2 linked regions of the Homo sapiens genome follow. The protein of the gene in region 2 purifies or fractionates together with the protein of the main gene of each other region. This does not show direct contact. Each region holds a gene or a part of one and is shown on either strand. Other genes may lie near its edges.

What was found.
Region 1: the proteins of TEX9 (region 2) and NOL4L purify together in Homo sapiens (affinity purification with mass spectrometry; 3 studies listed by BioGRID and IntAct, with this or other methods). This does not show direct contact.

Annotation. Positions count from the first base shown.
Region 1 is NC_000020.11:32,577,487-32,592,558, reverse strand, and holds the start of NOL4L (nucleolar protein 4-like), read left to right. Parts: upstream 1-7,225; 5' UTR 7,226-7,668; coding exon 7,669-7,989; intron 7,990-15,072.
Region 2 is NC_000015.10:56,357,130-56,371,986, reverse strand, and holds the start of TEX9 (testis-expressed protein 9), read right to left. Parts: upstream 6,562-14,857; 5' UTR 6,537-6,561; coding exon 6,510-6,536; intron 6,409-6,509; coding exon 6,317-6,408; exon of another isoform or gene 6,094-6,316; intron 3,980-6,093; exon of another isoform or gene 3,935-3,979; intron 1-3,934.

The sequences.
Region 1 (15,072 bases), on a different chromosome or scaffold from region 2:
AGTAGAGATGGGGTTTCACCATGTTGGCCAGGCTGGTCTTAACTCCTGACCTGAAATGATCCACCCACCTCAGCCTCCCAAAGTGCTGGGATTACAGGTGTGAGCCACCGTGCCAGGCCCGTTTTTTTTTTTTTTTTTTTTTTAATGCCCATTGGCCCAGCCAGCCTGAGTGGGGCGGGATGGCAGTAATGTGCCCTGGCTTTAGAGCCAGGCAAATCTGGGTGCAAACCCTCCTCTTGCCCCACCACTAGCTGTGCGACCTCAGCACATTTAAGCCCTGTATGAGGCTTAAATGTGGTTATAGGTACGAAGTTCTTGGCACATAGTAGGCCCTCATGCAGCTCTCACCATTTTGGTTATTTGAAATATGTCCACTTCAACCCTCTATGAGCTCAGGCCAGGCAGGAACCACACTTGTTTTTTTTTCTGCCTGCACTGCCTGGCACACAGAAGGGGACTGACTTGTAAGGGCTGACCTATCAATTTTCCTGGGCTGGGCAGACCCAGGCTCCCCTCCCCTCCCTGCCTGGGTGAGGCTGGGGTAGGCCCGAGGGCCCTACACCTGCTCCCTGAGACTGACCCAGCAGGCTGCTGGGTGCCAGCATCCAGCATCAATAAATTACTGGTGAGTTCAGGTGACGGGACAGATCCAGTGTCAGCTTCCTTTGTGTCCTGCAGAGAGGCTCAGGCCCTGGGATCCCCCTTCACAGGCCTCCCCCAACAAGGGCTCCATCAAAATGACAGAGTTGCCCACCTACTGTGTGCCAGGCCCCACCTAGGCACTTTGCACCGTATTTGATTGACGCTTCACAAAGATTCTGCAAAGCAGGCACTAGCTCCGTTTTACAGATGAGGAAACCGAGGCTTAATGAAGGGAAGTGACTTGCCAAAGACAAAATGAATATAAGCAAAAAAGGCCCCTGCCTCTCCAATTCAGCAGAAATCTTCCTGGATCTCATTGCAGTGTATAGTCAAAATACACACACACACACACACACACACACACACACACACACACACACACACTCTCTCTCTCTCTCTCTCTCTCTCAGGGATTTTCATTCATTCATTTATTCAGTAAACACATATGGGACACCTACTACGTGTCAGGTATTGTTCTGGATGTTGGAGATACTGCAGTGAACAGGACAGAGCTCTGCCCTCTAGGAATGTACATTCCAGTAGGTGAGATGAACAGAGACAGGAAACAAATACATATGTATTATAAAGGAAGGTGGCACTGAGTCCATGAGGATGAATCAAGTAAGGAACGGGAATGGAGGGCCACTGGGGGACTTTTAAGAAGGGCAGTCAAGGAAGGCTCCTCAGGGGAGGTGACATTTGAATGAAATCCCTCGACAAATTAGTTCTCTTATCTCTTTATGCTTTAGTTTCTGGAAAAAAGGGGATGCTGGACTCGAGCGGGTCTCAAACTCTGCAAGGTGGACAGAATTTTTTCCCACTCAGTCGTAATTCCACAGGCAGTGTGGCGCGGGCCACTGCAGGAGTAGAGACACTTTTCTCCTCCCCTCCACTTTGCCCAGTGCTCCATCTTCTGGTCCAAAGGACCCTTAGGGCACTTAGAGTGGGACTTCTCGAAGGTGCTGATCTGGGCGCCCCGCTCCCCTGCCATGTGTTCTCATGGCAACTTTTTTTTTCTGAGACAGAGTCTCACTCTGTTGCCCAGGTTGGAGTGAAGTGGTATGATCTCGGATCACTGCAACCTCTGCCCGCTGGGTTCAAGCAATTCTCCTGCCTCAGCCTGCGGAGTAGCTGGGATTACCGGTGCCCACCACCACACCTGGCTAATTTTTGTATTTTTAGTGGGCGGGGGCGGGTTTCACCATATGGGCCAGGCTGGTCTCGAACTCCTGACCTCAGGTGATCTGCCCACCTTGGCCTCTCAAAATGTTGGGATTACAGGCGTGAGCCACCACACCCAGCCTCATGGCAACTTTTTGTTTTTAATTCTAAACCCATTTGTTATGATTTTTTTTTTCTTTTTTGAGACAGTCTCACTTTGTCTCCCAGGCTGGAGTGCAGTGGCACAATCATAGCTCACTGTAGCCTCTACCTCCAGGGCTCAGGCAATCCTTCCACCTCAGCCTCCCAAGTAGCTGGGACTACAGGTGCACACCACCACCGCTGGCTAATTTTTTTGTACTTTTTTGTAGACACGGGGTTTGGACATTTTGTCCAGGCTGGTCTTGAATTCCTGGGCTCAAGCAATCCACCCACCTTGGTCTCCCAAAGTGCTGGGATTACAGGGGTGAGCCACTGTGCCTGGCCTGTCATGATCTTTTGAAAGTCAGCTAGTCCCTGAGCTTCATGGGTCAGGTCCCTCTTGTTTATTACTGTATTCCAAACACCAAGCATGGTGGCTGACATACAGAAGATGCCCAAATAAACGTCTGAATGATGGATGGGCATAATGACAATAGGAGCTAGCATTTGTTGAGTGCTTATTCTCACGACAGCCCTGTGAGTTAGGGATAATTATTAATATTCCCATTTTATCGGCATTGAACACTGAGGCTTAGAGAGATTAAGGGACTCAGTCACTCAACAGCAGAGCCTGTTAGGAGAAGCACAATAAATGCTGATGGATGGATTGATTATGGAGGAAGCATAGTAGCATGGTGGAAAATGCTGTAGACTTCAGTCTAGCACCTGCTTTTTGAGGATAAGCCCATTCATTCATTCATTCATTCATTTGGTTGGTTGGTTGCTTATTTATCCATTTATTCAATAACGTTTAAGCCTTAGCTCCTGTGCTGGGCACTGGTCGACACAGGTAATGAGGCCATCGTGAAATGCTGTGGTCAGAGCTGGGAGGGGGAAAGCCCAAGGCTCTATGAGTGACCAGAGAAAGCCCCTGACCCAACCTGAGAGGTCAGGAGGCCTTTCTAGAGAGGTGGGCGTACAGCAGCGGCTCAGCATGGCTGGCAGACTGCAGGGGGATGCTATAGAATAGGGGGATGGCAGGTGGTGGCACAAGCCCTTGATAGAAGGGGCACCAGCACCCAGTGGTGGTAACTACCTCTCCCCAAGGCTCTGGGGCCTCTCTGCTCTTCCTGGCCCTTGCGTGGACAGGCCTCTGTGGGAGCCTGAGTCACTCTGCCCCACCCCAGGCCTGGAACTTCCTGTGGCACAGTCAGGGCCACCTCACTGTCAAGTTGCAGGCATCCCCGCTCATCTGGGCCCAGGGTCAGAGCTCAGTGAAAGGCAGGTGATCTGGGCCAAATCAGGCAAAGGCCAGGTACCTGGTTCTGTCCTGCGGCCCTGAGCCTCTTTGCTCCTGTGGGACTCAGTTTACCCATCTATCAGAGGCAGGGTTTGGACTGTATACTCTGAGAACCCTTCATCACCAAGCTCTTGTGACCCATTACATTACTATCTGTATTCAGAGTGGACGTGAGCCCTGGGGGCTTGGACTCCCTGTGCTTCAACTCCAGTCTCCCTTGGACACCTGGACGAAGTGTGGAAAAAAAAAAAAATCCAGAGGCCGGGCATGGTGGCTCATGCCTGTAATCCCAGCACTTTGGGAGTCCAAGGCGGGAGAATCACTTGAGCCCAGGAGTGATTACGTTACTATCTGTATTCAGAGAGGACGTGAGCCCTGGGGGCTTGGACTCCCTGTGCTTCAACTCCAGTCTCCCTTGGACACCTGGACGAAGTGTGGAAAAAAAAAAAAAAATCCAGAGGCCGGGCATAGTGGCTCATGCCTGTAATCCCAGCACTTTGGGAGCCCAAGGCGGGAGAATCACTTGAGTCCAGCCTGGGCAACAAAGAGAGACTCTGTCTCTACAAAAAATAATTAAAAAAAAAATAGCTGCGTGTGGTGGTGCATGCCTGTGGTCCCAGCTACTGAGGAGGCTGAGGTGGGAGGATCACTTGAGCCTGGGAGGTAGAGACTCCAGTGAGCAGCAATTGCACCACAGCACTCAGCCTGGGAGACAGAGCGAGACCCTGTCTCAAAATTTTTAAAAATGCAGAGGATCTCCTGGCCTTTGATTCATGGGGCAGCCTACTTTTTCCTTTGGCAGGTGTCTGGAATGGAAATCAAAAAAGAGCAGCTGCCCCCTGGGACCGTGATTGCATCCCCCCAGGAGTTGGGCATTGTGGGAGACTTACCCCACACCCCACCCAGCATGCCCCTCCTAAAGGACCCCAGTGACACGGATAGGCTGAAGACCCAGGGTCTGTTTCTGCAAAAGTGGGGATGGGCCGCAGTAGGCTGTTCTCACTCCTTGGCTGTTCCACTCTCCCAGGAGCCCTTGGGGCAAGAGGCTGGGACGTGCCTGGTGCAGTGAGCTGTCACACAGTAGGGACACCTCCAGGCCTCTGACCTCCAAGACCACAGACCTCTGGACCCCTGCAGCTGCCCTCCTCTCCTCACTTCTTCTCTACCCCACAGTCCTGCTCGTTTAAAACTCGCCAGTAGCTCCCATAGCAGCTGGAATGCCATCCAAAGTATTTCCCAGGGTCTTCAAGACTCCTGCCCTCCAACCCCTCCTCCCTCACTTCAGTCTCACCACACTGGACACCTTCCAGCTTCTAGAAAATGCCAATCTCCTTCCACCTTGGGGCTTTTGCCCTTGCTCTTCCCTCATCCTGGAATGCAGGAACAGCATGCCTTGGCACCTGTCATTTAAGTCACTGCTCAGATGCTACCTCCTTAGAGGGGCCTTCCCTGATCCCCCTAAGAAAAGCAGCCCCTTCTTTGCATTATTTGCTATCACAGCTCTCTCTTTCCTTCGTGGCCCATTCCCCGGGCTGTTGTGATCAATAGCTGGTTTGTTCAATAGCCATCTTCCATACCCATTGGTGCACTCCCGTAGGGCAGGGACCTTGGGGATCCCATGACCATATCCCAAGCCCCTGCTGCACAATGGCTGCTAAACAAATGTTTGTTGAATGAATGAAGCACAAAAAGTGCCAACAATGCCTGTCTTCCTCCTTGAATACTTCGAGGCCCCATGAGGGAGAAAATGGCACTTACTGGGCACCCGTCACAGCTCAGGCACTCTCATCCTGTTGAATCTCTACATCTGTGACATCCTGTCCCGCTATACAGATGATGAAGTAGGGGCTCAGTGACCTGCCTGAGGTTACCCAGCAAAGGGTGGAATGATGGCTTCATTCCATTGTGAAGTAGCCAAGTGGGACCTGTGAGCATGAAGAATGCCACGCCAAATAATCATCAGGATTCACTTCCAAATCTGACTCCACCCGAAGCCCATGTTCTTTTCATTATACTATACATTCTGCTGTGCCAGAACTCAGCCCAAGATTGACAACCAGGTTTTTAGCTTCTGAAAGGCAGGCAAAGACCCAGCCTGGGTGGAGAGGTGGTCCGGCTTAGTGGTTATTGAAGTGGGTCCTGGAACTGGACAGAGAGACCAGGGCTCACACAAGGACCCCACCACCCAGGCACAGGGCATATTTGCCACAGTTATCATTACCATTGCCAGGCTAGAGCATCTCTGCTCTCAGGAAGAGTGTGCTGGAAGGATAACCGTCAAGGGACACATGGAAAAAGTCAGGGTCTGAGCTTCTTAATCACAGAAGCCCCTGCGCCCCTGGGGCTGGCCTTTGGGTAGTGCCTTCCCCGCTCTGAGTGGTCACCTCTTAAAAACGGGCATGCATACCAGCATAGATCCAAAAAGAGCTCTTGAGAAGATAAAGAGGAAAAATGACTGTGGAGTTGTTGGTGTATATAAAGTAACATGAAATGTAAATTATCTAAAAATAATCTCCCATGTGAAATGCAGAGAGAGGTTGGGGCTTGGGAGACCTCTAGGGTTCTTTCAGCATTTACTGGCACCTACTGTGTGCCAGGTGTTGTGCTAGGGCCTGTGCATATGAGGATGGGTCAGATATGGCCCTGAGCATCTGGAGCTCCCTGTCTACTGGGGGAAGTGAGCCAGGTATACACAGCGTGGGGCTCTCTCCGAGCGCGGTGAAAGGGGAAGAGTTTGTGTGTGATATGGCAGCAGCAGCCAGATGCACATGAGCTGAAACCCACCCCTCCTTCCTGCATGACCTTGAGCAGGTCAGGCCACCTCTCCAAGCCCCAGGTCTTCGTCTGTAAAATGGAGCCATTCCCTCTGCCTCTCAGAGTTGCCAGGACATGGCACGTAGTAGGTCCTGGGGTGGGGGACTTTGGGATGGGAGTAGACAGTAGTTCCTACGCAGGAAACGGTCCTGCACTAGACAAAGTCTGGGCCTCAGGACTTGGATGGTGACTTGCCTGCAGGAGTGTCATGGGGACATGGGGTGGACCCCCGGGGACAGCTGGGAGAGAAGTGCAGCAATTCCTCATGACCTGTTAAGGAAGTGGGGGGTAGGGGCACAGAAATCCTGGGGAATTGGCCTGTGCCTTTATTTATGTTGGTAATTTCATTAAGGGGGAGGGGACCAGCTAGCTCTACCCAAGGTCAGATCTGCCCAGGTAGGAGGGGGGCGGTGGGGCTACCTGAGTTTACTCAGCAAGAGATTCTAGGTCAAGGCGCACTCAGGAAGGCAGGGTGTCTCAGGATGAGTTTGTGGATGTGTTGAGAGTTTTCTGAAGCGGAGGTGGGATTGGGCTGAGGCCACAGGCGACTTCCCAGGGGGCCTGGGCCTGTCCCAGAGCAGTGGGGCAGGCAAGCAGAGGCAAAGCTGGCCAAACTTCGGGGAATTCAGGGTGAGGCAAAAGGAGAGGAAGTTTGGGGGCCCCGAAGGGCGGCGATGTGGGGTTCCCCCAGGGGAACACTGCTCTTCTGGCTTCGGCTCACGGGAGAGGTCAAGTCACTTGCGGGAGCGAGGGAGGGGGAGCCTGCCCTACACCTTCCCGGCCTGGCTAAGTGGGGCGGGGCGGCCGGGAGGTCGGCGTCTGGGCTGGGGTCTGCGCCCTACTCCCCGCGGGACCGCCGCGTCCGGGAGGAGCGGGGCCTGCGAAGCTCCGGGCCCGGCCCGGCCAGACGGAACGCGGTTCCTGGGCTGGGCACTGCGCGCCTGTGGTTCCTGCCCTCCCGGCGGCTGCGGGCGCGGCTGCCCCCGCGCCCCCAGGGGCCGGGCCGGGCGGGGGCTGGGCCCGGCGGGCGGGCGCAGGAGGAAGGGGGGGGCGGGCGGCGGCGAAGGCTGCGCCGCTCTAACAGGTGGGATCCCGCGGCGTGGTGGAGGCGGGCGCGGGAGGAGGAGGAGGAGGAGGAGGAAGAGCCGCGGCAGCGGGAGCCTGAGCAAGAGCAGGATGAGCCGCGCAAGCTGACAGCCACTGCTGCCGCCCGCGCCCAGGCTCGGTCTCGCTCCCAGCGCTCGGGGCCGCTCCCCGCCTCCCGCCTCCCCCGGCCGCCCGCGGGGCGGCCCGCCCCCTCTGCACCTCCGGGCCCGGAGCTGCCTCCATCGCTCCTGCATCCCGGCCGGGGGGAGGAGGAGGCGGAGCAGGAGGCGAGCCGGAGCCGCCGCCGCCAACGCCGCCGCCGCCGCCCGAGCAGGACAGAGCGCGCCGCAGCCCCGCGCGTCCGGCCGCCGCCCGCGCCCATCCAGCAGCCTCGCCGGAGCCACACCGCGGGACAGACGCGGCCGCGGCGCGTCCCGGCCCGGTCCAGCCCAGCCCAGCCCAGTCCCGGCACCGGGCGGCCCGGCGGCCGGCCCGCCCCCGAGGGCGCCGGGCGCGGCGGGAGGATGCCGAAGCCGACGCTGCTGCTGCGCGGGGGCTGGGAGCGCGAGCGCAGCCCCGGGGACTCGGAGCTGGGCCGCCAGTTCCGGGACTGGTGCTTGCGCACCTACGGCGACTCGGCCAAAACCAAGACGGTGACACGCAGCAAATACCAGCGGATCGCCGAGGTCCTGCAGGGCGGCGGCGGGACTGGCGCGGGCAGCGGCCCCGCAGCCGGCGAGAAAGGCAAGTTCCAGTTCTGGGTGCGCTCCAAGGGCTTCCGCCTGGGCAGCGGCCGGGAACCCAAGATGGGCCAAGTGGTGTATGTGCCGGTCAAGACGGGCTCGGTGAGTGCGCGCGCGGCGGCCGCGGGCGGGTCCCGCCGCGGGGCTTGGGGCAGGCGGGCGGGGGCGGGGTGGGGGTGTGGATGTGTGTCCGAACGTGTGTCCCTGAGGTTGTCCGTGTGTCGGGCCCGCCGGAGGCGCACGCGTCCCTGCTCACCGGCCCTTCCCGGCTCGCCTGGGCAGCGCTCCGGGTTCGGGGCGTCCCTGCCCCCCTCCGCGCCGCTGCCCGGGCCGTGGCCGTGCCGGGCAGGCTGTCCCGGGCTGCTCACCCCAGCATGTTCCGTCCTCTTGTCCCCTCCCCCCGCCAGCAGGCGGCTGCTCTGGAGCCCGAGCCTCCCCCCGCCCGCCCCGGGGCTGCCTGTCCCGGGCGCCTCGCGCTCCCGCCCCCGGGCCGGCTGGGCGGTGTGTGTGTGTGTGTGTGTGTGTGTGTGTGTGTGTGCGCGCGCGGAGGGTGGTGCCGCGGGGTGGGGGGGGGGGAGGGAGGCAGGGGCAGCCGCGGGACGGGGAGTCCGCCGGGCCTCCCAGCGCCAGGGGAGGGGGCCCGCCCGGGCACTGTCGCCCCGACCCCACCCGGGGCTGGCCCGGGGAGGGGCGGCCGGAGCCGCAGCCTGGCGCAGGAGCAGCCTCCCGCGGGTGGGTGGGGCGCCCCCTCAGCCCCCCGGGCCCCTCGTTCCCCCTTCATGGGACGGGGGAGGCCTGACCTATCCATCCCCTCCCCTCCCCCGTCCCCCGGGCCGGCCCGGTCCGGGCGGGGTGGCGTGGGGGAGGGGGCGGGGAACCGCAGCCGCCTAAAGGGAGGAGGCGGGCGGCCGGGCGGGGGCGTCCCCTCTGGCCCGGGGCGCCCTGGAGAGGGCGTGCGGCGCGGGCCCCGCGGCTCCCCCGCCGGGACCTCATTGTTCTGCAGAGGGTGGGGGCTGGGGGGGGGGCGGCCGCTCCCGGGGCGCTGCTGAGCTTTGAACTTTCCGTCGCCGAGACCCTCCATTAGTGCGTTCCGCCCCCGGCCCGGTCGGGCCGCGCCGGCCTCCCCCCGCCCTCCTTGCTCCCTCCCCGGCCGGAGCGCGAGAGCCGGGCCGCCCCGCGCCGGCCTCCCTCCCTCCCCCGCTCCCCCGCTCCCCCCTCCGCGCTCCTCCCCCGGCCGGCCCGCCCGCCCCGCGCTCAGCCCCGTCCCCGGCCGGAGCGGGCTCTTCACACACAATTGATTCGGTCGTTACGAAAAGTGCACTTGTCCCCTCCCCCTCCCCCTCCGCGGCCGCCCGGGCCGGGCCCGCGGGGTGAGGGGGCCGCGAGGGAGGGAGGCGGGAGCCGGGGAGCAGATCCGGAGGCGCCTCCCCCCGCGCCCAGGGGACGGGGCTGCAGGCCGCGGGGAGTGGGAGCCGCGAGCGCGGAGGGCGGGCGGCCCATCTGCGAGGAGCGCTGATAACCGCGCTGCGGCCGCCAGCAGCCCATCTGCGCCGCTGCCGCCTCCGGCCGGACCGGGAACAGGGGGCCGGGCAGAGGGGCGCGCCGGGACCGGGCTCCCCGAGGGGGAAGCTGGGGCAGTGACCCAGCCCGCGCAAGGCTGGGACCCTCCCAGCCTAAATCAGCACTCTCGCTCAAACCCGGCGAGTCTGGGTCATTGTCCCCTCCCCCGATCGAGTCCAGGACCCCTCCCCCAGCCCAAATCAGTGCCACTTTCCCAGATGGGGAGTATGGGTCAGCCCTCCCCACCCTGCCAGGTCGGTCCCCTCCTCGGTTCTCCCATCTTGGGTCACTGCCCCCCGCCGGAGGGCGGTTTTTCTGAGGTCAGTGACCCACGAGATGGTTGGCTGGGTCTTGCCCCCTACCCTAGGTCAGTGCCCTCTGCCATCAGGGCTTCCCGGGTCGGTGCCCCACCCCACCCCCCCATCCTGGTTACACCTCCCTGAAGAGCTGGAAGCCTTGGCCCAACCTTCTTAGTCTGAGGCAGGAGCCCTGAGTCCACCCTCTCCTGGAGTTGGGGGGTGACCCCCCAGACCTGGCAGCTGGCTCACTGGCTTTCTGTGTGGCTCGACTTCTCCCTAGGGAGTGGGCATCTGGAGCAGTCGTCCACTCTTTATCCACACAGCTGTAGAGGCTGAGCACCCCCTCCCCCTATCCAGGCCACATGCAGAAACTGGGTGCTGGGCCTGGACCCCAGGTCCTGCCGGCCCAGCTGCTGGCTTCAGATGCTCCTTGAGACCCACGCTGACCCGCTCTGCCTGCCCCTGGCAGCGCGACCGTCCCCAGTCTCCACCCTGGCTCTCAGACCAATAATGAGCCCTCCCCAAGGGACCACCTGCCTGGGAGGCAGAGAAAGGGGACCCAGGCCTCCCAGTCCAGGCTGCCAGGAGATCGACAAACACAACAGACGTGCCCTCCCTCGACAGCCCGCCCCTCGGGCTCCCCACGCCCGCCTGCCTGGCCTGCTGGTCCCGAGAGCCCGTCAGTTACCTGCCACTCGCCCAGCCAGCCGGAGCCAGGCAGGAGATGCCACCCCCATCTCCAAGTTCTTTCCTGGGGCCCAGTTATTATTTTTATATTTCCATTTTCCTTTTCACTGATCCAAGAGGAACAAATCCTGCTGGGAATTCTGGGGCAGCCATTGGCCTCTTCCTGGGAGGGGCTGAATGGGACCTCCTTTGAAAGGTGCAAAGGACGTCTCCCTGGCCTACACACACACACACACACACCCCCTCACCCCTGGTGTCATTTGGGAGAGAGCCTGTAGTTTGGTCCTCGGTGGGTTTTTGTGAAGGTCATTGGGCCATAAACCTTTGTCAAAAGCATTTGTTTAGTACCCACAGTCCTTGTGCGGGCACTGGGGTGCTCGGGTGGGTGGGGCTGTGTGCCTGCTCCCAGGTCACCCAGCTGTCGGGGGTGGTGGGCATAGCTGAGGACAGGATAAAGAAGCCCATGGGGGCTTCAAGAGAGAGCAGGTAGAAAGATTCCAAGGAAGAAGGGAGGTGGGAGTTGGGTCATCCAGCAGACAGGCCCCATATAGCCTCTGTCCCCAGGGTGGCCATGGTGTGTCACCTCTCTTCCCCATTGCTCTCTGGCTGCCCCCACCCTGGGCCTCCCTTCCTCCTCCCACAGCCATATGCGGTGCTGTGGTCAGGGCCCTCTCCTAGTCCCGGCCAGCCTCGGGTCGATGATCTGACACCACTTGTCCTGTCCCATCTGGCCCTGAGCTTTTCTGGGTGTGTGTGACAAAGGCTTAATCTGTCCGGACGGGCCCAGGGCAGAGAGAGGGCGAGGGGAATTACACTCCACAGGGCCTCCTGCAGCTGGGGCCCAAGTGGGGGTGGGGCAGGGCGGGGGTCGAGGAGAAGCCTGGGCGTGGGGGAGAGGCAAGTTGGCCTCCAGTTTGCAGGTTGTCACAGGAAGTAGAAGGTGGAAGCAGGGTATGGAGGAGAGGAGGGCGGAGTCCTCCACGGGCAGCTAGGGGTGCTGGTGGGGATAAGATCTCTTTATGACAAGAGCCAGCTGGGGGCCTCCTGGCCGGGTGAAGCCTGGTGAGGATTTATTATTTCTTACGTTTGGCCTGCTCCAGGCCTGTGGGCTGCCAAGCGGGGGAAGCAAACCCCTTGGAGACAAGACCCTCCAATTCCGTTCCGGCATTGGCCACAAAGTAAAACAACCCCTTTCCTTTTCCTCTGGCCTCTCTGAGTGGAGCGCGTGGAGCCGTCCCCAGAGCCTGCGAGGGCCACAGGTTACGGCTGAGGTGGGGCCCTGGGCTGTCTGTCAGTTCCTAGGATCAGAGAGCCCCAAGTCTCCGTGGAGAGATAGAGGTTCTCAGCCCAACTGTACCATCTTCCAGATGGGAAAACTGAGGCCTAGAGAGAGGAAGTTTCCATTTGTTGAGAGCCAGGACTGGAACAGGGTTCTCTGTGCACTGCTGTAGCTTCTCCGTGGACCTGCCACATGCCAGGAATCCCACCGTTAGAGCCCCATTCCCCAAGGGAAACTTCGAGATTGCCAAACTCCACTCTCAAAACCAGGCTTTTGCAAGCTGGACCCCAGGTGTTCCACTACCCAAATTGACTAATGGTGGTCTTTTCCCAGTTTGCAACAACGTTCATTTAGTGGAAAGCATTTTGAGGCCTAAGTCTTTCTCCCCAGAGCTTTTGTGTAAACCTTTGGCACCTGCGGCCGCTGGTCTGGGCGGGAAATGGCCTCTGACTTAGCACCGCGTAATATGTGCTGTGACCTTTGGTTGAGTCCCTCAATATTTCCTGGTTTTCTCTGAATTATCAGTATAGCGGCTGTTTCGGGGGTCACCTACTGTGTGCCTGTCACTGGGCTGAGGCGCTGATACGCATCAGCTTGTGGAATTCTCACAGCAGCCTAGAGGCCAGTGCTGTGATTACTGCTACCTTCACATGAGTAAACTGAGGCTTAGGGAGGTTCAGAACTTCCCCTAGTCCACACCAATGCCAGGGCCTTGCATACATCTCCATTCTGACTTTGAAGGGTCTTGCAACCTGATCCAATTTGAAAGCACAGGTCCTTCATGTCAAGCTTTCAGTCCATTACACTTTAGTCTGAATTAGTTTCAAAGCATCCCTCTGGTCAAGAGGTCTGTATTCACAGGCTGCTGCCTGAGGCAGGACTGGCACAACATAAAGTCTGTGGGCTTTCCTAGGGCTCATGAAGATGGGTGTGGGGTGGGGAGGAGGGAGGATGCCTCTGTTGTCCTGGGTCCTGGGGGGGCTTTTGGAAGAAGGTTGACAGTGATGCCTGGCACAGGCTCCATTTGCATTTTTTGTGAGTGGCAGAGCGTGCGTTTTTGTCAGTTACACGTTGTGATTTGGGTGGCATGGTCCTGGGTAACTCTGGGGGGCTGCATTTCGGTGCCAGGGTGATGCAGACAGGTCAGGCTCTGCCTTCCTGGGGCCTCCCCTCTAAGTCCTGGGTCACTGTCTGCTGAGGGGTGGGGACACCGTGCACCCTTCTTCCCTGGGTAGGAGCTGGTAGGAAAACCCTCTGCTTTATGGCCCCTGCAGGCTGCTTTGTCGTCCCTGCACGTCTGGGAGGCTGGAAGGCCCATCTGGGACCTCAGAAATGCTGCTGGGAGGATTGGGGGGTGGGGAGCCTGTGGCTGGGGGTGTCTGGGGACCAAGTGGAGGGCCTCAGGCATACCTGGGCTTCTTCAAGCCAGATCTTAGCTCAGAGGTTGTGCGACTGAATCCTGAACATGTGTGTGCTCACGGGCTAGAACACGCATGTGCGTGCATGTGTGTGTGTGTAAAAGTGCAACTGTGTGGGTGTGAGTGTGCTGTTCCTATCTATGTGCAGGCTGGAAATGCTTGTGTGTGTGTGCGTGGAGTGTGTGCAGGGCACAGGTGGAGAGGCTCCTCTGCGTGTTTGTCGGCATCTATGTGAGCACCTGGGCTGTGGGCCTTGGCAGCTGCGGGTGTGACTGCGTGTGCTTGCACTCATGTGAGATCTGGATTGGACTCACCCTGTCTGTCTGCCAGTGTGGTGCTGTTGGGATGTCCTCCATCATCACCAAGTCACCTGAGCTGCTGCCCTGGCCCCTGCCATCCCCGGAGTCTCAGCAGCTGGCTGAAGCCAAGAGGTGGCCATAAGAGGTGGTGCCATACCCCCGTCCCCATGACTGCAGCCAAGGCATCTCCTTGTTCCAGCTTCCCACTGCCACCCCCTACCCGCCTCTTGCTATGGTCCTATAACAAAGCCCAAAGCCAAGCATGGGGCGGGAAGGTCCTGGGAGAAAAGGCTCTGAACTTGAAGTGAGGGGGCCAGGGCCTATGGGGTCCTAACTCAACTGTTTAATTCCCACATGACCACGGGCAAGTAGCCTGCCTGGCCTCTCTCAGTCTCAGTTTCCTTTTCTGGAAAATGGGCTCTAAAACTCCACTTCTTGGCAAACTGGAAAAGGCTCTGCTGTCATTTGAGGATGGTGGCTAAGGAATGTGCTTGAGGCCACCCTGCTCACTCATGTCAAAGCCAGGCCTACCAGCCTGGGGACATGGTGAGACCCCGTCTGTATGCAAAATTTTAAAAAACTCAGGCATGTTGGCACGCACCCGTAGTCCCAGCTACTCAGAAGGCTGAGGCAGGAGGATCACTTCAGCTCAGGAGTTAGAGGCTGCAGTGAGCTGTGATCATGCCACTGCACTCCAGCCTGGGTGACAGAGGGAGACTCTGTCTCAAAAAAAACAGAGAACGAGGCTAGGCCCATGGGCCCCAAAGCAGGTAAAGAAGCAGCTGGAAGTTGGTGACAGCACCCACCAGGGCCAGTGGCTTATTAGAACAAGAACTCTTGAGTCCACTTTGATGTAGAGAACAGGTAAAGGGCCTGGGCTTTAATGCTACAGGACCCTGGGTTCAAATCCCATCTCTGCCCTTTTATCAGTTTGGCCTTAATTTTCCTTCCTTCCCTCCCTCCCTCCCTCCCTCCCTCCCTCCCTCCCTCCTTCCTTCCTTCCTTCCTTCCTTCCTTCCTTTCTCTCTTTCTTTTTTGACGCAATATTGGCTTACTGCAACCTCCGCCTCCCATGGCCTTAATTTTCTCATCAGTAAAATGGAACTGTAATCATATTCCTCTTCTAGGAGTGATGTGGAAATTAATGCTTTCATGCACGTAGGGCCCCCAAATGTAGCAAATCTTAGGAAATGTTAGCTGCTATGTGATCTCACTGAGCCTCAATATTCCTCATCTGGAAAATGGGAATGGTGATGAAGGATGTTGTGAATATTAAATGGTACAGTGGAGACGAGGCACCCAGCCAAGTCCCCGGCATAGAGTAGGTAGGCAGCAACTATGAGTTCCCTAGAGGTTGTATCTGAGTCATTTCTGTGTCTCCAGTACTATCAGGGGCCTGAGAAATGTTGCATTGAATTGAACAGAGAAGGCTTTTTCTTTTCTTTTTTTTGAGACAGATTATCGCTTTGTTGCCCAGGCTGGTCTTAAACTCCTGAGCTCAAGTGATCCTCCTGCCTCAGCCTCCCAAGTAGTTGGGCTTACAGGCAGTGGGCACTGCACCTGGCACCAGAAGTCATGGTGAGGGATGGAGATGTGGCATGAGCCCCCAGAGCTGGGAACTTGCAGACTCAGGGTCTCTTGCT
Region 2 (14,857 bases):
AGCAACAAACAGGAACAGAAGCCAAAATAGCTTAAAAGCTAGAAGCTGATGTATGTGAGTCATGAAGGGATACACCTGTGAAACACAGACTACAAAAATTCTACCCACAACCTTAGGTGAGCAGAAATGAAACTAGAACCACAGGTAGAAAAGATTCTCTTGTGAGTAATTAAAACAAACAAGAGGGAAGTCCAAATTCATCTTATCTAGGTGATACAAGGACACCATGGAAAAACTTTAAAATAGAAGAAAGCTGACGTGGAATCAATCAAAACTCGAAACTAGTAAAGGTAAATTGAAAACCACCCTATAGGAACATTTACTCATCTAGAATATATAGGACTCTCTCAAAAAGCAAACTGCTAAAGATGACTTCAGAAAGGTAACAAATTGCATAAAGAAACAAGCCACTGAAAGAGAGAATCAGCAGATGTGAGGAAAGGGAAAATTTATACTATAAGAACAAGAGATAATATAACAATTAAAAAAAGATTTTAAAATTAGCATTAATTTGGAAAAAAAAAATGCACTTAGAAAAACATTAGGCAAGAGCCAGATTTTATCATAAAAGAATGCTGAATTTGAAAAAGATCCAAATATAAATTACATAAATGAAAAACACAGTCACTGAAATTAAGAACTCAAGGAAATTTGACAGATATGTTGAACAGCATAATGGGCATAGAAGGAATGAGTGAATTAGAAGACAGATATAAATAAATCACCTACAAGGAGATACAGAAAACAAGGGGATAAAAACACAAAAGACAGGTTAACATCCATTGAAGACAGATGTTATGTTCCTACTTAACAGAAGTTATAAAAGAAATCCCAGAGAGGCCTGGGTGCAGTGGCTCACATCTGTAATCCCAGCACAGTGGGAGGTGGAGGGAGGATCACTTGAGGCCAGGAGACCAGCCTGGCCAACATAGCGAAACCCCGGCTCTACTAAAAATACAAAAATTAGCCAGGTGTGGTGCTGCATGCCTGTAATCTCAGCTACTGGGGAGGCTGAGGAATGAGAATCGCTTGAACCTGGGAGGCGGAGGTTGCAGTGAGCCAAGATCGTGCCACTGCCACTCCAGCCTGGGCAACAGAGCAAGGCTCTGTCTCCAAAAGAGAAAAAAAGAAATCCCAAGAGGAGAGAATGACAGTATTTCAAGAGCTAATGCTGAGAATTTCCCAAACTGAAGACATGGATCTCATGAAGAATAAAGAAAACAAATCCACCTGTGTATACATCACAGTGAAAATACAGAATTTTAAAGAGAGTACTCCCTAAACTACCAAATCATTATTTCAAAACAACAGAGAAAAATAGTCTACCAGCATAATTATCTAAAAAGCTGACAGCAGATGGCTCATTAACATTTCTGACATTCTAACATTTCTATCCTTATATTACCAACAGACAATATAAGGATATCTTTAATGGGCTGAGAAGGAAAAGCTGGCCATCTAGAATTACATTCAGATAAACTGTAATTGAAGAATAAATGCAAAGTAACAATTTTCAAAAAGACTGGAGAGTTTAAGACTCAGGTTTTCACAAAAAGTAATAAAGGGTCTACACTTCAGGAAGGAGGAAATTGAATCTGGAAAAAAAGAATTATGAAGATATCTGAAAACATGATAAATCTAAATTAGTACAGACTATAAAAAAATTGATGATTAACTGGGTGTGGGTGTATTCAAAACAACAAAGTAAAATATTATCTAATTTAAAAGACAGAGGACACCAAGTTAAAGCATTCTAACGTCTTTCCACATCACTAAAAATAAAGACATAATGAAAACCCATTCAATCCAGCAGAAGACAGACAAGAACCAAAGACAAGACATAATAGAAAATATAAAAAATAAGGTGGCTAAGACAACTTCAAGTTATGTAATAATGTAAATATATTAAATTCACTTATTAATAGGCAGAAATTATCAGACTGGTTATAAAAAGAATGCTCTTACTGATAAATGACATACAAAGTTTGAACATAAAGGGATGAAGAAAGATAGACACTGCATAATAATGAATCAAGAAGATTTAAATAAGTCAAACAAGATATTCCCAAACAAAAATGGCCACATTATAAGGAATTTTTTTAAACTATAATTATAATTGATGATTTTTAATACACTTCTAACAGAAACCAATAAAGCTGCAACAAGAAAAAAGGTGAGGATACCGATGTCATGAAGAACAAATATAAAACAGATTAGCCAACAAATAATAAATACATTTTCTATCAAAGAACGCATAGAACTTTTACAAAAAGTGAACAAGCACTTGGCCACAAATAAGTCTCAATACATTTAAAAACTTAATATCACATCAATTCTCTAATCATAATGCAATTTAAAATAAACTAGGCTGGGCCTGTAATACCAGCACTTTGGGAAGCCGAGGAAGGTGGATCATTTGAGACCAGGAGTTAAAGACCAGCCTGGGCAACATGACGAAACCCCATCACTACAAAAAATATAATACAAAAATTAGCCAGGCATGTTAGCACATGCCTGTAGTCCCAGCTACTCAGGAGCCTGGGAGATGAAGGTTGCAGTGGGCTGAGATCACACCATTGCACTCCAGTCTGGGCAACAGGGTGAGACCCTGTCTCAAAAAAAAAAAAAAATTAGCATGGCATGGTGCCATGCGCCTGTAGTCCCAGCTCCTCGGGAGGCTGGGGTGGGAGAACTCTTGAGCCCAGGAGGTGGAAGCTGCAATGAGCCATAATCACACCACTGCACTCCAGCCTGGACATCAGAGCAAGACCTTGTCACATACATACTCAGAAAAATAAAAACTAGACAACAGTAAACAAACAACCCTATGTGCTTGCAAACTAAAAAACACACTTCTAAATAATTACTATGAAAATCGTATAATATTTAGAACTAAATAACCATAAAAGAAATATACATCAAAACAAGTCCTGGAATATAGTTAACCTACAGTTGGAGAGAAATTTAAAGACTAAATATATTTATTAAGAAATAAGAAAAACAATAAATGAGGTAAATAAACTAAAAAACAAAAAATTAATCCACCCCAGTTAGAAGAGATCATTTGTCTTTATTTCTGTAAAGATTAATGAAATTTTAAAATAGCACAGATTAGCAAGAAAACCAAAGCTGGTTCTCTGAAAAGACCAATAAAACAGATAAATCTCCCAGGAAGCTTGATAGAAAAAGAAAAAGACAAAAATAAACAATATTGGAAAGCTACCAAAAGGAGGGGTGTACATGGTTATGGATACAGTCAAGATTTCAAACATACCACCATAGACTCAGTTTATGCTAATGTATTTTAAAACATACATGATATGAACACTTTTCTAGAACAAAAAATTATTTTAGAAATAACCAAAAACTATTCTAGAAATAGTACATCTAATCATTAAAGAAGCTAAATGCATAGACAAAAAGAATCCCCTTGAATAAAAGAACACTAGACTCAGACAGTTTCACAATTTTAATCAAAGGGCAGAAAATCTCTAATTATAAAAAGCTTCCAAGAAAAGAATCAAAAAAGGAAAACTATTCGGCTTCTTTCATACAGACAGAATGATACTGATATCAAAAACAGAAAGGAAAAGAAGTAGAGAAAAACTACAACACCCATTTCACTTTTGTTCATAGATGCAAAAAACCTACATAAAATTATAGCAATCAAATCTAGCAGTCTTTAAAGGAAAACAAGAAACCTGCCTTTGTAGTTCAGTATGTTAAAACATTAAAGGAGGGAAAAAGAACATACCAACAGCTGAATTAATTAGGGAAAAAATAAGTTTTGATACATTTAACACTCATTCAAATTAGGAATTAAGGGGAAGAATTTTAAACATAATAAAAAGAATCTACCAAAACCCTAGAGCAAACCTCAAATGTAGTGATTATTAAAAGTGGGCTTCTCAAAATCATAAACAAGGAAGCTCACCATCACTTTTTCTATTCCATATCACACGGGAAGTCCTAAACAGAGAAAAAGAGAGAATGTAGGAGAATTATCAAGGGACAAAATGATCAAAATTTGCATATAATTGTCTTCATCAAAAATCCAAGGGAATTCACAGAATGAATAAGAGAGTTCAGCAGGACTGAAGATCTGTGTGTATATAAACGCAGATGTAGCATCAACATCTAAAAATTCTACATTTATAACCAATTAGAAAATAGAAAAAATTCCACTTATTATATAGCAACTATTCAGTACCTTGAAGCAAATTATATACGCAAGAATTTTATGTAGTAAAATGATAAAACACTATTAAAGGTAAAAACCCATAAATGGAGAAGTATCATATTCGTGGAAAATTCAATAGCATAAATAAGTCAGTTCTCTACAAATTAATCTGTAAATCCAATGTAATTGCGATTTATGAGGGGGCTTGCCCTACCAGTTATTATGTTATCTTATTGTTTAGCTATCTGGTATTATAATACAGGAATGAAGCTTGAAAAATCTATCCACTTGAGCGATTAGCATCTTCCTTAGTCTATCCTTTCGGACAGTGATTATTTCCTCCAACAGAAGCAGAACTGCAAAAGGTTTTGGATTGAGGTCCCTGGGAAGTAGCATTCTAATGATCAATGCCAAGACAACAGGTGGCAAAACAGATACCATACTGTTATAATTTCATATTCTTGCTTACAGGGATGGCCAGACATTTTACTCTTCTACATGACACAGAAGTATTCTAGAAGATTCAGGTAGTGTAGGGAGTTACTCTGTTCATATGCTTCAGATGTGCACAACTCAGAGTACAGATAACAGAACAAGTAACAACTGGCCACCATATAATACTGTTTAGCTATCTCGTTTTATAAAGTAACTCGTGCTAGAATACAATAATAGTCCCTGTATATTTCTCATTTTAAGCAGGACTGTATCCCTAAGGATGCACCAGAACCAGGTGCAAAATACACTCTCAAATAACTGAACAAATAAACCTAATCCAGGTATTTAATACTATATGGTTAATGATAATGAAAATAACCGTTTTGATTGAGGCATAGCTGATAAAGAACTATATATAGAAAACAGATTAATTTGCTTAAGTACACTTTTGAACTGGGATAATCGGCCCATTTCATCAGAGAGAAGAAGATATGATTATCTTCCTACTTGCTGTGGTAAATTGGTCTGTGTATAGTTCACCTAAACACAGTACCTTTCAGTTTTAATTTCAAATATGCTTATAGATCATATGTAGATCATACGATAACTCTAGTTTAACCCTCTGATACAAACTGCCAACTATTTCCAAATTTTAATCTAGTTATTTTATATTAAAACGGAAGGGAGTTGTTAAAAGGCACTTTTTTATAAGGGTATGTATGATGGCAAATAAAACAGACATCGCCTCTGCCCTTGGAACTTACAGTCCAGTGGAGACAGACAAAAAGGAAATTCACAAATGAATTTATTGTAACAAATTATGCTAATTAGAAAGAAAAATCACTGAGACAATGAAAAAGACCAACAAGGGAGCCTACTTAGCATGGTCAAGGAAGGCCACTCACATTACAGGTTGAAGGCGTGTGTGACTGTCTCTTTCCTGAGATAGAAAGAAAACCTGGAAGAGTTTTTGGAACTAAAAGGCCAGTGAAGCTGGAGAGTTTTAGGGGGAAAAGGGGAAGAGGGAATAAGATCAAATAGAGGAGGCAGGAGGAGCCACATCGATCAGAGCTTTTGAAATGCAACAGGAAACTACTGTAGAATTTTAAGCAAAGGCATGGTAGATCAAATTAAAAGATTACACTGGCTGCTGTGTGAAAACTTGGGGATGAGGAGTAGAATGGGCCAAGAATGAAAGCACCGTTGTCAGGATAGTTGTAATTACACTGAGAACAGATAAGAAAAGGAATATTTGAACGAGAATGGTAATTCTGATTGCAGTGGGAAGCATCCTTTCAATTTAGAAACCAACCTAAAGGAAATTTACACAAGGTAAACTCTATGAACTTGATATTAAGCGAAATAACCTAAACTATCAAGTGAACTAACTATTCGTGGCAATTCCTGCTACCCAAATAACTTCCAACAGTATCTTGCTGTTTACTTGGGCTACGTTTTAAATTAAACAACATGCTTACTTGGGCTAAATTTTCGCCCACTTCAAATATCTTCTAATACGCAGGCGAACTACTCAGATCAAAGACAAAGAAAGGATAAACGGCAGGTGAACGAGATGACGAGAAGGGAATGCTGCAGAGTGAGTGGTCCCGAAGATCCAGCCAGTCTCCAGAAAAAAGTACTTGTAAGCAGCCTCATTCAGATGAAAGAAAGAAGGAAAAGTTCAACCGCCGAATTTCTTACTTATATTCTTCCTCCAAGGCGAGGAGGTCGGGTCCAGGTGTAGAGGGTTGCTGAACGGGTGGCGGGAACGGAGTCCCTGGAACGCTGCTTCTCTGTAAAAGAGCCACAGACTTTCAGACCCGAAGTTAAAGGAAGTTAGGCGTCCTAGTCGCCGGAACCCAGACGCTCCCCAGGAGCCTGGAGTTGAACTGACCGTGAGACACAGACTTCGCCCCGCCATCTTCGGCGACTGCGACGCGGTTACCGAGGCAACGACGCATCTTCCCGCGAGAGTTTCCACATCCCGGTTGCCTCCCGCCCGGGCGCCTACGCCTTCCCACTCTCAGGTTCTGTGCTGCGAGCGGCGCGAGCCTCTGGCAGCGGGCTCGGCCTTTGCTCGCAGCACTCGGCGCTGTCCCAGGAACCCAGGAAGGCTTCCTAACTGCAAATTCGACTTAGTTAGTGCAAATTCTCAACTTGTGGGGGTTGAAAGAGTTTCAGCCAAAACAGGCAGGTCCTTTGCCGCTACTCTATAGAAAGCAAGCTGGTGAGGCAATCCCTCCCTGTTGTGCTTTTCAAACCGTTAGTGGCTAATCCGACCTTCACCCCGTTTGCTTAAAGTGAGCTCTTCAGTGGAATTCAGAAGTTTTGATTTCTAATTTTTGTTTACAGCATGCATGGCTAAGACTCAGGCTCTCAAGTTAGTCAACCTAAATTATTATCCTGGCACTGCCACTTACCAGTTATATGGCCTTGGGCAAATCACTCTGTATATCGGCCACTTCATTTGTCAAATGGAAGTGAGAATAGTGCCCACTTCACAGTTATTATGAGAAGCAAATGAATTCGTGCTTAGGATCATGCCTGAAACACGTAAGCGGTTAACAATTTCAATTGTTTTGGAATAAAATTGACATCCAAAAATAAACCGTGATATGATGTATGGTCATCTGATCTTTAGAAAGGGTGCAAGACCATTCAATGGGAAAATAATTGTCTTCAACAGATGGGGAGACAACTGGATATCCAAATGCAATTAGACCCTTAACTTCACACCATATACAAAAATTAAAATGTATCAAAGACCTAAACTTAGGAGCTAAAACTCTAAAGCTCTTCAAAGAAACTGTTGGTGTAAATCTTTATGACCTTGAATTACAATTCTGAGAATCCTTGATGGATTCTTAGATATGACACCAAAAGCAGTAGCAAAAAAAAAAAAAAAGAAAAGAAAAAAGAGGCTGGGCACAGAGGCTCATGCCTGTAATCCAAGCACTTTGGGAGGCCAAGGCGGGTGGATCACCTGAGGTTGGGAGTTCAAGACCAGCCTGACCAATATGGAGAAACCCCGCCACTCCTAAAAAAAAAAAATTAGCCGGGTGTGGTGGCTCATGCCTGTAATCCCAGCTACTGGGGAGGCTGAAGCAGGAGAATCGCTTGAACCTGGGAGGCAGAGGTTGCGGTGAGCTGAGATTGCACCATTGCGCTCCAACCTGGTCAACAAGAGCGAAATTCCATCTCAAGAAAAAAACAAAAAAAAGGAAAAAAAAATAGATAAACTAGACATTATCAAAACTAAAAACCTTTAGTTTCAAAAGATACCATAAATAAAGTAACAAGACCACAGGAAGAGGGGAAATTCTTGCAAATTATATATCTGATAAATAACTTGTGTCTGGACTATATAAAGAAGTATTAAAATTCAAAAATAGGTAGGTGCAGTGGCTCATGCCTGTAATATGAGCACTTTGGAGGCTAAGTCAGGAGGATCACTTGAGCCCAGGAGTTCCAGACCAGCCAAGGCAACACAGCAAGACTCCATCTCTACAAAAAAAAAAAAAGGAAATAGATAAATAAAAATTAGCTGGGTCCAGTGGTACATGCCTGTAGTCCCAACTACTAGGAGACTGAGGTGGGAGGATCACTTGAGCCAGGGAGATCAAGGCTGCAAAGAGCCATGGTCACACCACTGCACTCTAGCCTGGGTCACAGAGTGAGACCCTGTCTCAAAAAAAAAAAGAAAAACAATTTAAAAAAATTTTTAAAAAAGACAACCCAAGTTAAAAATGGGCAAAGAAATAGGGATTTCTCCAAAGAACATATACAAGTAGGCAAAAAGCACATGAAAAGATGCTCAGTATTGTCCTCAGGGAAATGAAAATTAAAACCAAAATGAAATGCCACTTGACACCCACTAGAATGGCGATAATCAAAAGGATGGATAGCCAGGCGCGGTGGCTCACACCTGTAATCCCAGCACTTTGGGATGCTGAGGCGGGCAGATCACCAGAGGTCAAGAGTTTGAGACCAGCCTGGCCAACATGGTGAAATGCTGGGAGATAGAAGTTGCAGTGAGCCGAGATAGCACCACTGCACTCCAGCCTGGGTGACAGAGGGAGACTCCATCTCAAAAAAAAAAAAAAGGATGGACAATAACGTGTAGAGGAGGATGTAGAGAAACTTGAACCCTCATAAACTGTTAGTGGGAATGGGAAAATTGTGCAGCCACTGTGGAAAATGGTCTAGCAATTCCTCAATAGTTTATACACAGAGTTACCAAACAATCCAGCAACCACTGCTAGGTATACACCCAAGGAAAATGAAAACACACCCACATGAAAAGTATATGTACAAATGTTTATGTCAGGATTATTCATAACAGCCAAAATGCAAAACAAACCCATAATGGTCATAAACTGATTAGTAATTAAATAAAAAGTGGTATATTCATACAATGGAATATTATTCAGAAATGAGAAAGAATGAAGTACATGTATACCACAATATGGATGAACCTTGAATATATTATGCTAAGTGAAAGAAGCCATTCACAAAAGACCAAGTATTATCTAATTTCTTTCACAAAAGATCACATACTATAGGATTCTATTTCAATATGACTACATATTGTAGGAAATGTCCGCAATAGGCAAATCCATAGTGACAGAAGTAGATTAGTAGTTGTCTAGGCTTGGCAGATGATGGAGGGTTAGCTAAGGAGTTGCAGGGTTTGGGGGGCGCTAGTGAAAATATTCTAAAATCAATTGTGTTGATGGTGTACAACTCTGTGAATACACTAAAAGCCAATTAATAGTACACTTTATATGGGTAAATATAGATATGTGAAATAAATCACTCAAGCTGTTAAAACATCTTAAAAATAAACTATTTACAACATCGAGGGATAAAGAAAGGAACACTATGCTAGCACTAATCAAAAGGAAGCTGGAGTCGCTATATTAATTTCAAACAAAGATGACATCAGAACAAGGAAAATTATCAGGGACAAAGAGGAGCATTAATGATAGAGGTCAATTCTCCAAGGGGATAGAACAATCCTGGTGTAAATCCTCCTAACAGTAGTGTCAAAATGCATGAGGCAAAAACTGGTAGGACTTGCAAAGAGAAATAGACAAATCCATCATTATATTTGGAGACTTCAATACTACTCCTTCAGTAATTAACAGGTTAAGCAGGCAGAAAATCAGCAAGAGTTGCTCTGGACAGCACCATCAATTAGCTTGATCTAATTGACATTTATAGAATACTCATTTCAATAACAGCAGAATACACATTTTTCTCAAGGTCGCATGGAACATTCACCAAGCTAGAACACATTCTAGCCATAACACACTTTAATAAATTTAAAAGAATATAAATTATATAGTTTAGGGTAGCTGTAATAAAGCACCACCAAGTGAGTGGCTTAAAACAACAGAAATTTATTGTCTCATGGGTCTGGAGGCTAGAAGTCCAAAACCAGGCTAGAAGTATCACCAGGACTATGTTTTGCTTGAAACCTGCAGGGGAGACTCTTTCTTTGCCTCTTTCTAGCTTCTATGGTGGCTGTCACTTCTTGGCATTCCTTGGCTTGCAGCTGCATCACTACAACCTCTCTCTGCCTCTATAATCATGTAGCATTTCCCCTGTGTGTTTCTGCTTTTGCATGGCATTCCTGCTTTTCATGAAGACTCCAGTAATATCGGATGTGGGCCACCCTAATGACCTCATCCTAACGTGATTACATCTGTAAAGACCATATTCACAGGTACTGGGGGTTAGGACTTCAATATATGGTAGGGAGGGGGAGGTGGCACACTTTAACCTATAACCGAAATTATACAAACTATTTTATTGTGGTCCCAGAGCACAATAAAACTAAACTAAAAATCAATAACAAAACAGCTGGACACCCACAAAATATTTGCAAATTAAATTCATACTTCTAAATAATACATGGATCAAGTAAATATCTAGAGGAATTAAAAAAACATTTTGAACTAAATAAAATTTGAAATATAACTTATCAAAACCTGTGGAATGTTATGAAAGCAGTGCTTGGAGTGCTTAGCATTCAATGCATATATTAGAAAAGAAGAAAAATCTAAACTCTGAATGTCTACCTTCAAGGCAGCTAAAGGAAAAATATTAAACTTAAAGCAAAAGAAAAGTAACAATAAACATTAGAACATAAATCAATGGAACTGAAACAGGGAAACAATAGAGAAAATCACAGAAACCACAATCTAGTTAAAATCAATAAACTTATAGCTGTGCTAACCAAGAAAAAGAGAAGATCCAAGTAACCTGTTCTGTGTTATTTTCTGTGATGGTCAGTCAGGTGTGGCCATGAGAGGAAAACAACATTTATTATACTCACAGGTCCTAGAAATAGGACGCATGCCATGCCATACAGGGTTACATGGGGAAGCCTCGGGATAGTCAGGAGGCAGAAAACAGGAGGAAGAGAAAAACCTGGACTAGAGCCTCTATTGGAGTTTCCACAGGAAAAGCAAGGTAGAGTAAACCCATTAGGATTGGCTACTATGAATAATTTCAGAGGGCCCCGGAGTATAAAGGTTGTCCTTAATTATCTGGTACATAGCTCTGCAATGGCTAAGACAGAGGAAGGCCTGTTGTATATGGACCAGACAGAAGAGGTATGGCTTCATATTAGTTTTTTATATATCAAAGCCATGCTCCCTGGCTAAGCCCTTTTGCTTAGCTAAGAATTGGCTTGCCCCAGGAGGAAGCAGTTTCTCCCAAGCCAGAAAGGATTTTTTAAAGATGTCTAAACATCATAATATACAGAAAATTAAAAAATATAAACAATACAGTACCAACATTAGAAATGGAAAATAAGTCATCAATTGTCCCATGAAAATTAAAAGGATAATAAAGGAATACTATGAACTCTATACCCCAACATTTAATAAATTAGATGAAATGGACCAATTACTTGAAAGATACAAACTACCAAAACTCATGCAAGGAGAAATAGATAATCTGAGTAGGCAAGGACATTGAGTCAATAACCTTCCAAGAAAGAAATCACCAGTCCCAGATGGTTTCTCTGGTGAATTCTAACATACATTTAAGGAAGAAATAACAATTCTACATAATCTTTTTTGGGAAAATAAAGGCAGAAGGAACACTTCCCAACTCATTCCATGACTCTAGCATTACCCTAATACTAAGAGCAGTTAAAGACATTATAGGAAAACTACAAGCTGATATCCCTCATGAATATAGATTTTTAAACCCTTAACAAAATTTTAGCCAATATAATCCAACAATGTCTAAAAAGAATTATGCAACACAATGGAGTGGGATTTATTCTCAGTATACAAGGATGGTTCAATATTCTAAAATCAATCAATGAATTCAGCACATCAAGAGGATAAAGAAGAAAAATTATATGATCATATAAATTCATGCAGCAAAAGCATTTGACAAAATCCAACACCCCTGAAGGTACAAACTCTCAGAAAACTAGGACTACAGGGAAATATCCTCAAGTTGATAAAGAACTTCCACAAAATATCTACAGCTTAATGAAATTGGATGCTTTCTCCCTAAGATCAGGAACAACACAAACATGTCCTTTATCATCATTATTATTTAATATTACATCTGAAGTTCTAGCTAGTGCAATAAGACAATAAAAGGGAATAAGGAGTATACAGATAAGGAAGGAAGAAATAAACCATCTTTGTGTATAGATGACATGAATGTCTATAAAGAAAATTTTTTTAAAAAAGAAAATCCAAAAGAAGAAATAAAACTCTCCTGTAACTAATAAAATGATAAAAACAAAATTTGTGTATACATAGAATGGACAATACAATAATATTCAGCCTTAAAAAGAAATGAAATTCTGAGACATGCTACTACATGAATGAAACTTGAAAGCATTTTGCTAAGTGAAATAAGCCAGACACAAAAGGACAAACATTGCATAATTCCACTTATTTAAGGTGCCTAGAAATGGTTAATTCATAGAGACAGAAAACAGAGTTTACCAGGGACTAGGGAGAGAGGAAAATAGGGAGTTATTTTTTCATGAGTACAGAGTTTCTGTTTGAGATGATGAAAAAGTTCTGAAAATGGATAAAGATTATTAAATCATTGCACAACTTTATGAATATATTACATTTAATGCCACCAAATTAAAATATGGTTGACATGGTAAATTTTATGTATATTTGACCACAATAAAAATTTCTAGTAAAGGGGTATCCTATAAAATATCCAACCAATACTCCTCAAAATTGTCAAGGTCAACCAAAACAAGGCTGTGAAACTGTCACAGCCAAGAGGAGCTTAAAGAGATATAACAGCTTTGTAAAGTGATTATATTAGTCTGTTCTCACACTGCTATAAAAAATACCTGAGACTGGGTAATTTATAAAGGAAAGAGGTTTAATGGACTCAAAGTTCTGCATGGCTGGGGAGGCCTCAGGAAACTTAACAATCATGGCGGAAGGAGAAGCAGGCATGTCTTACGTGGCGGCAGGAGAGAGAGCAAGTACGTGAAAGAGGAAATGTCAGACACTTATAAAACCATCAGATCTCATGAGACATCACTCACTATCACGAGAACAGCATGGGGGACACCACTCCCATGATTCAATCACCTCCCACCACGTCTCTCTCTTAACACGTGGGGATTATGGAGATTACAATTCAAGATGAGGTTTGGGTGGGAACACAAAGCCTAACCATATCAGTGACATACTGGACCAAACCCTAGAATAGGAAAAGACATAGTAAAATACAAGGAATTCTGAATAAACTATGGACTTCAGTTAATGTATCAGTAATGGTCTACTAATTTCAACAATTTAACCATATTAATGTAAGATCGTAATAATAGGGAAAACTAGGTGCAGGGTATATGGGAACTCTCTCTACGATATTCTCAGTTTTTCTGCAAATGTAAAACTTCTAAAAAATTAAATCTTTTTTTTTTTAAGTTAAAAGGGATTTTCTTCTTCAACAAAATTGTGAGCTAGATGATCTGGGACACCCTTCCACTGCACAACGACCAGATTCTGGAAAAAAAAAAAAAACTTATCTATGCATTACTGAACTTGAAGAAAGTAGGAGAAATTTCCATGTGTCCTCCTGACATCTCATTCTCCAGATCTCTTCCCCACAAATAAACAAGATCTTCTGATAGTAGGCATTTAAGAATAAAAAGGTTAAGCTGAGAAAATGCCCCAGGGAACTGTATTCAGAAAACAAGGCTTACATCAACAGCAATATGGAAGAGCTGAATCTGAGACCTCTGTGCTAATCTAGAAACCAAAAAGGCTAAAAGTCATTTAGACTGGTAGTGCCCCAACGGTCCTAGCAGATTCAAACACAAATCTTTTTCAAGAAAAAATTTCTAGTTAAGCCCACTAAATTCCCAGGTTAAGATTAAGACAATGTGAGTTCACCATCAAAAATCACCAGACATAAAGGAAGCAAGTCACCATAAGTGCAAAATTAGAAGAAATAACAAATATTTAGACTTCCAATAAATTCAGATATTAAAATTTTATCAGCTGTGAAATAGAGAAAATCTATTTAGAAAGAAATAGAAATAAGGGACAGAATCACAACAATGAGCAAGCAAAAAGAGACCATCAGGAATGACCAGGCAAATATGATAAATAATCAAATGAAGCTTGCAGATATTAAACACATATTTGTTGAAATGAAAATACTCAATGGACAGGTCGAATGGCAGATTATAAACAGATAATTAGTAAACCATAACATATCTGAAAAAATTATTCAGAATGAACAGAGAATGGTTAAACAGTACTGAAGTTAGACTGAAAAGATCTGACATATAAAAAAATCGGATTTCAAGAAGGATAGATTTGAAAAATTGAGAAGCAATACTACAAAAGTTAATTCCTTAGAATTTTCCAGAATTTAGGAAAGATACAAATATGTAAGTTCAAGAAGCATGGTGCATCACAAAGAGGATAAATTTTTAAATATATTCCTGGAGCTGTCATAATGCCAAAACACCAAAGAAAAAAGAGATCTTTAAAGCAGCCAAGAGGAAAAAAAGACAAATAACCTACAAAGAAGCAATTAAAGTAGGTGTTTTAATAGCTACAATGAAAGCCAGAAATACAATAAAATAATTAGCAGAATTTGATGATGATAAGCCCCATTATAATGAAAATTTGGATCAAGCATGCTTGGTTATTAATGACCAATTACTCACTAATGAATGGCAGCCTTCTGTCTAGTTCTATTCTCAAACTGGGTAGGACAAAC